Homo sapiens: one gene and its partner. The protein of the gene in region 2 interacts with the protein of the main gene of each other region in a pairwise test. Each region holds a gene or a part of one and is shown on either strand. Other genes may lie near its edges.

Region 1 (3,808 bases), on a different chromosome or scaffold from region 2:
CCATCAGTCTCAAAGGCAGAGTATAACAAGAAGTAAGTCCAAAATGCACAGGCAGACTTCAAGGAGGAATCACCCAAGAAAAGAAATACCTGCATTCTGGTTCCCTCCTCTCTTCCTTTCAACACCCACGGGCAAATAACTCATCAATCCCAGGAATCCAAAACTCCTTCCTTCTCAGGGGGCTGGGTGGACTGGAGACAGGCTTATTTCACAGCTGAGACTGGGGCTACCCATCTCCCAATTCTCCAGGAGAACTAGGATATTTGTCTCCCAACTCAGTTAACTGTTAATACAGTATGTTACATAAGCCCCTTGGATAAAAAACAAGGATTGAGGGGGAAATATTAGATAAAGGAATTTTCTTTTACAGTTCATGGTATAACAAATAGAAGTTTGCTAAGAGTTTCAAATACTGAATATATACTCGACCCCACACTTCCTCCCCAATTTCCCCATAACCCTTGCAGAAAATCAGCAAGATGCTGTTTAAAAACACCAAAAAACCATTGAAATAAAAATGATATCTAGGCCAGAGTTCACAAATTGGCAGGCCTGCAGGGTGATTTTGCCCAGAGAAGTTTTGTTTAGTCTGCAGAGGTGTTGTTTTTAATTTGAATTAGTTGCCAACTTAAAAAAAAAAGTCTACAATTTTTACATAAAAAACCAAGTAACCAAATTCTTCTGCACAAGTACAGGTTGTTAGTACAAGGTAACAATTGCCAAAAGCTCAGCGGCAGCTGTGTCCTCCAGATGAGTCCCCGGTGGCAATAGAGGCCCACTCCAGAGCCAGCCCCCCACAACCCCGTCAGTGCTCACCCCTTGAGCCCTGTGTAACACAGGCGTTCGTGTTCCTTGGCCTAACCAAGGAATAAACAGCAACCAGCCATATTTTGCCGTTCTTAATGGTGACTTTCAGAGCAAAACGGGAAGGGGATCAGAACCAGACAAAGGGACCTTATTTTTTCCCCTGCATTTCATCTAGAAATAAAATGACCTCCAAGTAAATACTGGTAGGCATCTGGAATGGACCAGGCCTGGGAAAGGTATACTCATATATTCTTCCCACTCCCGCCCCATTGTGGCCCCCACACCGATCCACCTAACACAAGATAGATAGATATGAAATACCATGGCCACCATCTTGCATCCTTTGGTAATATTGTTGACAACTACCCCCCTATCCCAGAGAAACTTGAAATAAAGACAGGCCCCCAGCACATCTTCTATAAAAGAAGGCCACAAGCATCCGAGATTCTAGAATACCACAGATAAAGAGGTCAGGTTTGGAGTGTGCAGAGAAGGTTCCCTTCACACACTTTTTTGACAAATGAATGACTCTGGACAAGTTACTCCTGATGCCTCAATGCCTGTAGAAATGTAAAAACCACCTGCAGTGTAACCAGGAGATTTCTATTTCAAAAGCAGATGTACAAATAAGGTCCTTAGCTAATCTCCTACTGTTAAAACATGTTAAAATCAGATAAGTAATATTACCTTGTATAAATCAGCAATTGTCCCTTATATGTAAGTGAAATGGTAATAACTGAAGTTCAATTCTATTAATAGTAGGCAGCATCCAATGAGGAGTCAGGAACCTGCCCTCAGTGAGGGACAAGACTATCCTGGCAAGTCATTCTTCCTCTAGTTCTGTGAGACGGGAGAATACCAGTTACCTCTCCCTTACCTACTTTATAAGGATGTCGTAGTCCATCAACCATCTGGAGTACCTTGGGAACAGGGTGGTATATAAACAGTCATATTCGTATTATCATTAGTCTTGCCTCACAAGCTGCCTCAATGTAATGATAACTTTTTAGGAACCTGGTAAATAAGACAAACTGCTTCCCCTCTCCCAGTGAGAAAGGATAGGAGTGAGGGAGACAATTAAGGAAGAAGCCCAGATCAACACCCACCTCTGTTCTGATGGATACTGGTTTTCAGGCATCATCTTTGGCATCTGCAGGGGCTGATGTGGTGGTCGGGGGACCGCAAATGTTTGCTGCTGTGGTCCAGGCTCTGGAAGCGAATGGGGGGCGGGGGCGGGGCCCACACCTTGAACTGGGCCAGCTGCAGGGGCATGCCCTGAGGTGGGCAGAGTTGCCTGAGGTGGGGGAAATAGGGGATTCTGATGGGTGGGTGAGAGGGGGGTTGTAGGAGGGGTTAATGGCTTGAACCCAGAGGGAGGCTTCCTATCATAGGCACTGTAAACAGAAAAAGAGAAGGAACCATTAAGCTGAAATGAAGCCATTAGCATGGTTACCAGGTCCAGCAGAAAGCTAGTTTGCAGCCCATTGTTGCCAGGAAATAACAGCATTAACATAGTTAAATCGCTCGTAGCCCCGAGGGGATATTTGTACCTCTGAAAAGTGACAAACACACTGCGTCACAGGGACTTGTTTAACACTTCTAGTGATTTTTCTCAAGGATAATTTTAGCCTCTGCTTCCGGTTTCCTTTTTCCCTCCTTCTAAAAGAATTCTCCGTGTATGCCTGTGTAGGGTGGGTGGGTGAGGGGAGAATGTATGTTTGCCAGGTGTTCTCTGGTCCCCTCTCCCAACTATTTCCAGGGTTCCCAGGAATTAGTCAGAATATGTGTTGAAGGTCTGTTTGTGCTGTGACATCATTTGAATTAACAACTCTTCTCCTCCCCCTTTCAGGCAAATCTATGTTTATCTTCTAGAGCAAAGAATGATTTAAAATTAAAGCTTCATTCCTGGGGCCTGGATATTCTTAAGTAAAGGGCACAAGCTTCAAGACTTTTTCATATATTCTGATTTGGAGATTACTTCTCTGGTGCTTAAAGTTCACATTAACATATGATAGACATGAAGAAGTATATATTACCTGCCTCAAAGCCACAGATCAAGTATCCCAGGATTGAGACTCTTTCCCTAGAAGGACTGGGTACCCTATGAACTTAGTGCTCTGTAGAGCCACAAGGTTTTTAATGGTTTTCTTTTGTGTGCAGTACAATGATCCCAAGGGGACTGGACTACACCCGGAGGATGACACTGCCATGAAAGAAGGATATGTTTTACCACAGGGTCTGCTGGGTAAGTAACACTGGGAAGGAACATTCAGCTTGATGGCTACTTCCAGAGCCTTTCTGGGCAGCCTTTCTTCGACTCCTCTTGCCCACTCACCAATAGTTGTAGAGGCACTTTTCTCCATAGTTAGCACCAAGAGCCTGCTCATGGCTACAAGACGACAGCTCAGAGGAGGGGCTGTGCAGCTCCCGTTTGATCTTGGTTGGAGGTGGGGCATGAAGCACCACTGAAATCAGAAGAGGGATGAGAGGGGAATAGAGAGAGAACAGCTGATTAACAGGGAGCACAATGCTTCCTTCTGCAAACCTTCTAACTAGCTGATTGTTCTTGGAACTCATGTCAAGTCACATGTCAGAAAAAGCAAAACGCTTAAACACACAACCTCCCATCCAAAGCCAATTAAATTCTTCAAAGTCAGAAAAAGTATCATCATCTGATACTTTTAATTAGCCAAGTCTTTTTTCCCAAATTTCTTTGGTCATGGGTCTTGCTTTCCAGAAGCTGCAAAATCCTTAAAAACCTTGCAGGTAATGGGTCTCCACCAAAAATGCAAGTGGCTGCAGACATGAAGAATTTTGTTTCCAAAAAGGACAAAACGACCAAAAATGTGTTGGTAGACATTACCAACACATTTAAGCTTATCAAAGGCTTAAAATTGCTGTGGCAAATATATTTCTTATTCAGATGCATATTTACAAATTAAATATAGAATTTTTAAAAAGTCCTTTCTCAAGTAACTTTAAATATCAGCTCTCAGCAAGA
Region 2 (4,238 bases):
TCCCAGCCCCCCTATGCTTTTTCTTCGCGTCCCCTCTTTCATTGGGATCCCCCAAGATCTCTGCCACCGCCCCCACCTTCCACCCAGCTCAGGCCACTTGGCAGTGCTGCCTCTTTGGCCTGCAAATGCTGTGCTCACCCAAACCCTCACTTACAATGACCTTCATTTTAGCCCCTGAATGCAGCCCTCAGAGGGCCAAGCTGGGGGCTAAACATACACAGAAGCTGGGTGGGGGGAAGGGGGCGGTGAAATGGAGGTGGCTGGGGAGGAGAGCCTTGACCATTTTGATCGCTAAGGTCACTTTGGGGCTTTGGTGGGGAGGAGCAGAAGCTCACAGCCTGACCAGCTGGGACCTCCCGGAGCCAGCTAGCCCCACCGAGCTGGGACAGTTGCTCCAGAGTGTAGAGTTGGCCTTTCCCTTGTTTGGAGAGGGGTTTGGCATCTGGGGCTTCAGGAGCCCAGGGAAGGTTAGGGTGCTGTGTACCCAAGCCCCAGCCTGAAAGTGCCTGGCTTCTGGGGCCTGCTGGCTCTTCTGGGCGCTTCTGCAAGGCTAACACTGGGCCCAAGCACAGAGTTCGTGGAGGACCTTGAACCAGGCTTGGGGAGGCACCAATGTCCCCCCACAGGGTCTGTGCTGCTGCATCTGCCTACACAAAGGGATGTGAGGCAGAGAAGGCAGAGACACATCAGAGAGATCTGTCAGGTGGAAGGGCCCTGAATTTTTAACAATGTCTCACTCCCAGGGGTAGAGGAGAAATATCCTGAGTGTGATATTTTGCAGAGAGGCAGAGAAAGCAGGCACACAATGTTTAGGGCCAGCGTCTGGGCTCCATTTGATCAGGTCAGCATTTATTAGTAGGAAGCAGTAACATTTACAACTGGTCCTCGGGCAGGAACCGGGAGGGCCACCACCCGCGGCCGCCCACGCGAGCCCAGCCTTCAGGGGAGAGAGCAGCGCGTCCAATGCACTGAGGACAAACCCCAACCCGCCCGAGGCCCTGGGCTCCTCTAAGCCTCACTGGAGATCTCCACCGAGGTCCCGCGTGCTCCCTGAGGAAAGGGGGCTTTCGCAACTGGTGGGCAACCCCGCCGGGCTTCACCGTGGGCTAGCAGCCGGGGTGTCCGCACTGTTGTCGCTCTGCCTTCATTCTTGGAATTGGGGCGCACTTGGCCCCTGTTTGGGCAGTGCTGGGGGTGAGGGGACTAAACTACAGCACTTTTCAGAAACATGGGGGACATTTACACAAGAGAGGGCTCCCCAAGCCAGCTTGCACTCACAAAATATAGCATTTCTTAAGGAACCAATGGAGCAGGAAAGAGAGGGAGTGGGATAGGGCGAAACCCCAAAGCCACTTGGTTTTTCCAACACGTAAACGAGCAAATACAGAGTCCCCCAAATACCTCAGAGACCAACCACACAGTCACTTCTATCTAAAAAGAAAAAAAAAAAGAAGAAGAAGTCCAAGTCGCTGGAGAGTTTCTGGAAATCAAGCACCAAACACCCACAAAGGAAAACAGCAACAACAACAAATCCGCTGCCCTTGAGCGCTCCCGCCAGCACCGCGCCGGGTCAGTCTCCTTTGGGGCATTTCTCCTTGCTCATCTTTTTCATTTTCATCCTACGGTTCTGAAACCAGATTTTGACCTGTCTCTCTGTTAGGTTGAGAATCCTGGCCACCTCGTAGCGCCGGTCCCGGGTGAGGTACATGTTGAAGAGGAATTCTTTCTCCAGCTCAAGCGTCTGGTATTTGGTGTAGGGACAGCGCTTTTTCCGGGTGGAGCGAGCGTGGATCCAGTTCGCGGCGGGGTTGTCTACAAAGAGGGAGGTTTGGAGACGGGGAGAGAGGAGAGGAGGGGAGGCAGGGAGAGACCACAGGGTGGGGAAGAGAGGTCGTTAAATTAATTTCACCAAGGATGGTCGCTTTTCACAACTTGTGGGGAATTATCATAAAAAGCCTTAATGCTCGCGCTCTGTTTACCGTACTAACTGAGCGCCCAGGGTAGGTGGTTATGGGAAGCTCTTTTTATGGATGCATGTTGTTCGCCTAGGCTTGGGTAGGCGTCTAGACGTTTTTATAGGTTAGTAAAACTATCAGTTTTGCACATTCGAGCCTTACAGGTTTCAGCAATAAATCAGGGGGCAATTTCTTTTGCACTTACTTGGGTCAAGTTGCTGCTGCTGCGGCTGCGAATGCTGCTTCTCCTCCTCCTTCAGCGAACAGCCTGGGATCGGGTGGTCGCTGCAAGCTGAGGGCTCCGACGAGCCGCCCGTCCCAGTCGCGGCCCCGATCCCTGCCCCAGGCCCGGTTCCCCCCGTCGCCGCTGCCGCCTTCTCCTGCAGGAACGAGTTGCACGAGAACTCGGGGCCGCTGCTCCCCTGGGACTCCCGGGCCACGGAGCACTCAGTCCGTTTGGAGGAGGAGGATAAGGAAGTGGAGGAGGAGGAGGTGGTGGAGGCGGCCGTGGCGGGGGCCGGGGCCGCTCGGGTTTCAGGCTTAATCCCGTAGTGGCGCCCGTTGGCTGGGCCGCTGGGGCCAGGGCTGGGACCGCGGCCCGGACCGCCGCCTCCACCACCACCGCCACCGCCCGCACCGCCCGGGAAGCCGGGCAGCGGCTCCATCCAGGAGCGCACGTAGCGGCCGGGCTCGGAGGCAGAGGCGGCCAGGGGCGGCGGGGGAACGTACGGGTGGTAGAGGCCGCTCATCGCCGCCGCTGCCGGGGGCTGGGAGGGCACCGCGGACCACGAGGCAGAGAACACGGCCGATCTGGGGGCAAAACTACACGAGGCGAACTCGGCGGCGGTGGCGGCCGGGCCATCAGCCACACCTGCAGGCCGGCCCTGCGCGCCTGGCCCCGGCGGCCCGAAGCGCGCCGCGAACACCTCGTCGCCCTCATGGCCTATAAGCGAGTCCACGTAGTAGTTGCTGAGGGTGCCACTGGAAGACATTTTGAGGCGTCCCGCACTCCCACCCAACATTACACTGTCCGCCGCCGAGCAGCTCCCCGCCGGCGCCCGAGCCACCGACTAGTTCGCAGGCTGCAGCCTCCACCATTGGTCGCGCGGCCCACGTGATCATATTTACCAATACCGGGAGTAAATCAGTCCGCTAAACTGGGGGCTGCTGTGATTAAAAAAAAAATCATCAACATAAGCGCCGCAATTAGAGCCCGCAGGCCCAGGTCCATGTGCCCGGCTCGGCCCGGCCCGACCTGGCCTGGCCCGCCCAGCGGCTGCCAGGACCACAGACGCGACCGCATCCAGAGGAGGCGCTGGGGACTATTTGTTCGCTTCTTCTTGCAGCCCTCGGTCCCGCAGTCGGGCCCCGTCGCTGACTCTCCAGCTTCCGAGCCGCGGGCGGCGAGTCCAGGGCACACGGAGCGGCCGCGGGGGCGCCAGGCCGGTGTCGCCCGAGGCAGGCGGGCCCTCGGGGCGGCCCCTAGCGCCCGAGGGGAGCTGTTCTCCCCTCGCCTCTCTCCCTACTCACACCCACCCCTCCCCACACATCCCCACACACACGCTTGCTCACAGCTTGTCGTGTTGTTTAAAACAGGTGGAAGACCTCTGTAATGATATTATGCCTTTCAATAAAAATTTTATGAGGTGTATTTGATTATAGATTAATGTGTCCCTAATAAAACGGACGGATGGAGCAGATCGGAGGGCCCCCTCCCCCTGCCACACTCACACACGCCCGCGCGGCCACACACACCCCGACGTGAGGCTGGGCACACGCCGCGGCCCGAGGGGCGAGCCGGGGCGCGGCGGTGGAGGACACAGAGGGGCTTCTGCCTGCCCTCGGAAGGGCGGGCGGCCGGGCGAGTTGGCGCAGCACGGACAGTGGCGGCCAGGGTGCTTCGTCTTCTCCGATGATGCTGGAAAGGCCCTGGAAGAGAACACGCCACAGGGCAGAACCCAAATGCTAGAGCAGCTTGCTCCCGCCCGCCGCCTCAGCCCTGCCTCAGCGAGTCTCCCCGGGCAGGGCCGCTTCGCGCGGTTCGCACTTAAAGGCCTCGGAGGAGACTCCCAAAATGTCTAAAAAATTCGGCCGAATGGCTAGGTCCTTGGGACACTCCCTTCTGATTTTTTTCCCCCTACAGAGGTGAGGTTGAGCAGCCTTGAATCTGAGGGAAATGCCCATTGTCACTCCCAAATCCATGGTACAAAGCCTCGGAAGCCCGGCTGGGAGCCCAGACAAAAGCGGCCGGGGCGCCGGCAGCGGAGGGCATATTCCTTGCTC

What was found.
Region 1: the proteins of HOXD9 (region 2) and ETV5 interact in a two-hybrid assay, tested with the Homo sapiens proteins (one large-scale study listed by BioGRID and IntAct).

What each region holds. Positions count from the first base shown.
Region 1 is NC_000003.12:186,077,904-186,081,711, forward strand, and holds part of ETV5 (ETS translocation variant 5), read right to left. Parts: intron 3,273-3,808; coding exon 3,143-3,272; intron 3,045-3,142; exon of another isoform or gene 2,657-3,044; intron 2,202-2,656; coding exon 1,914-2,201; intron 1,907-1,913; exon of another isoform or gene 1,129-1,906; intron 312-1,128; exon of another isoform or gene 1-311. UniProt on the Homo sapiens protein: Binds to DNA sequences containing the consensus nucleotide core sequence 5'-GGAA.-3'.
Region 2 is NC_000002.12:176,121,508-176,125,745, reverse strand, and holds HOXD9 (homeobox protein Hox-D9), read right to left. Parts: upstream 3,028-4,238; 5' UTR 2,978-3,027; coding exon 2,161-2,977; intron 1,813-2,160; coding exon 1,571-1,812; 3' UTR 809-1,570; downstream 1-808. UniProt on the Homo sapiens protein: Sequence-specific transcription factor which is part of a developmental regulatory system that provides cells with specific positional identities on the anterior-posterior axis.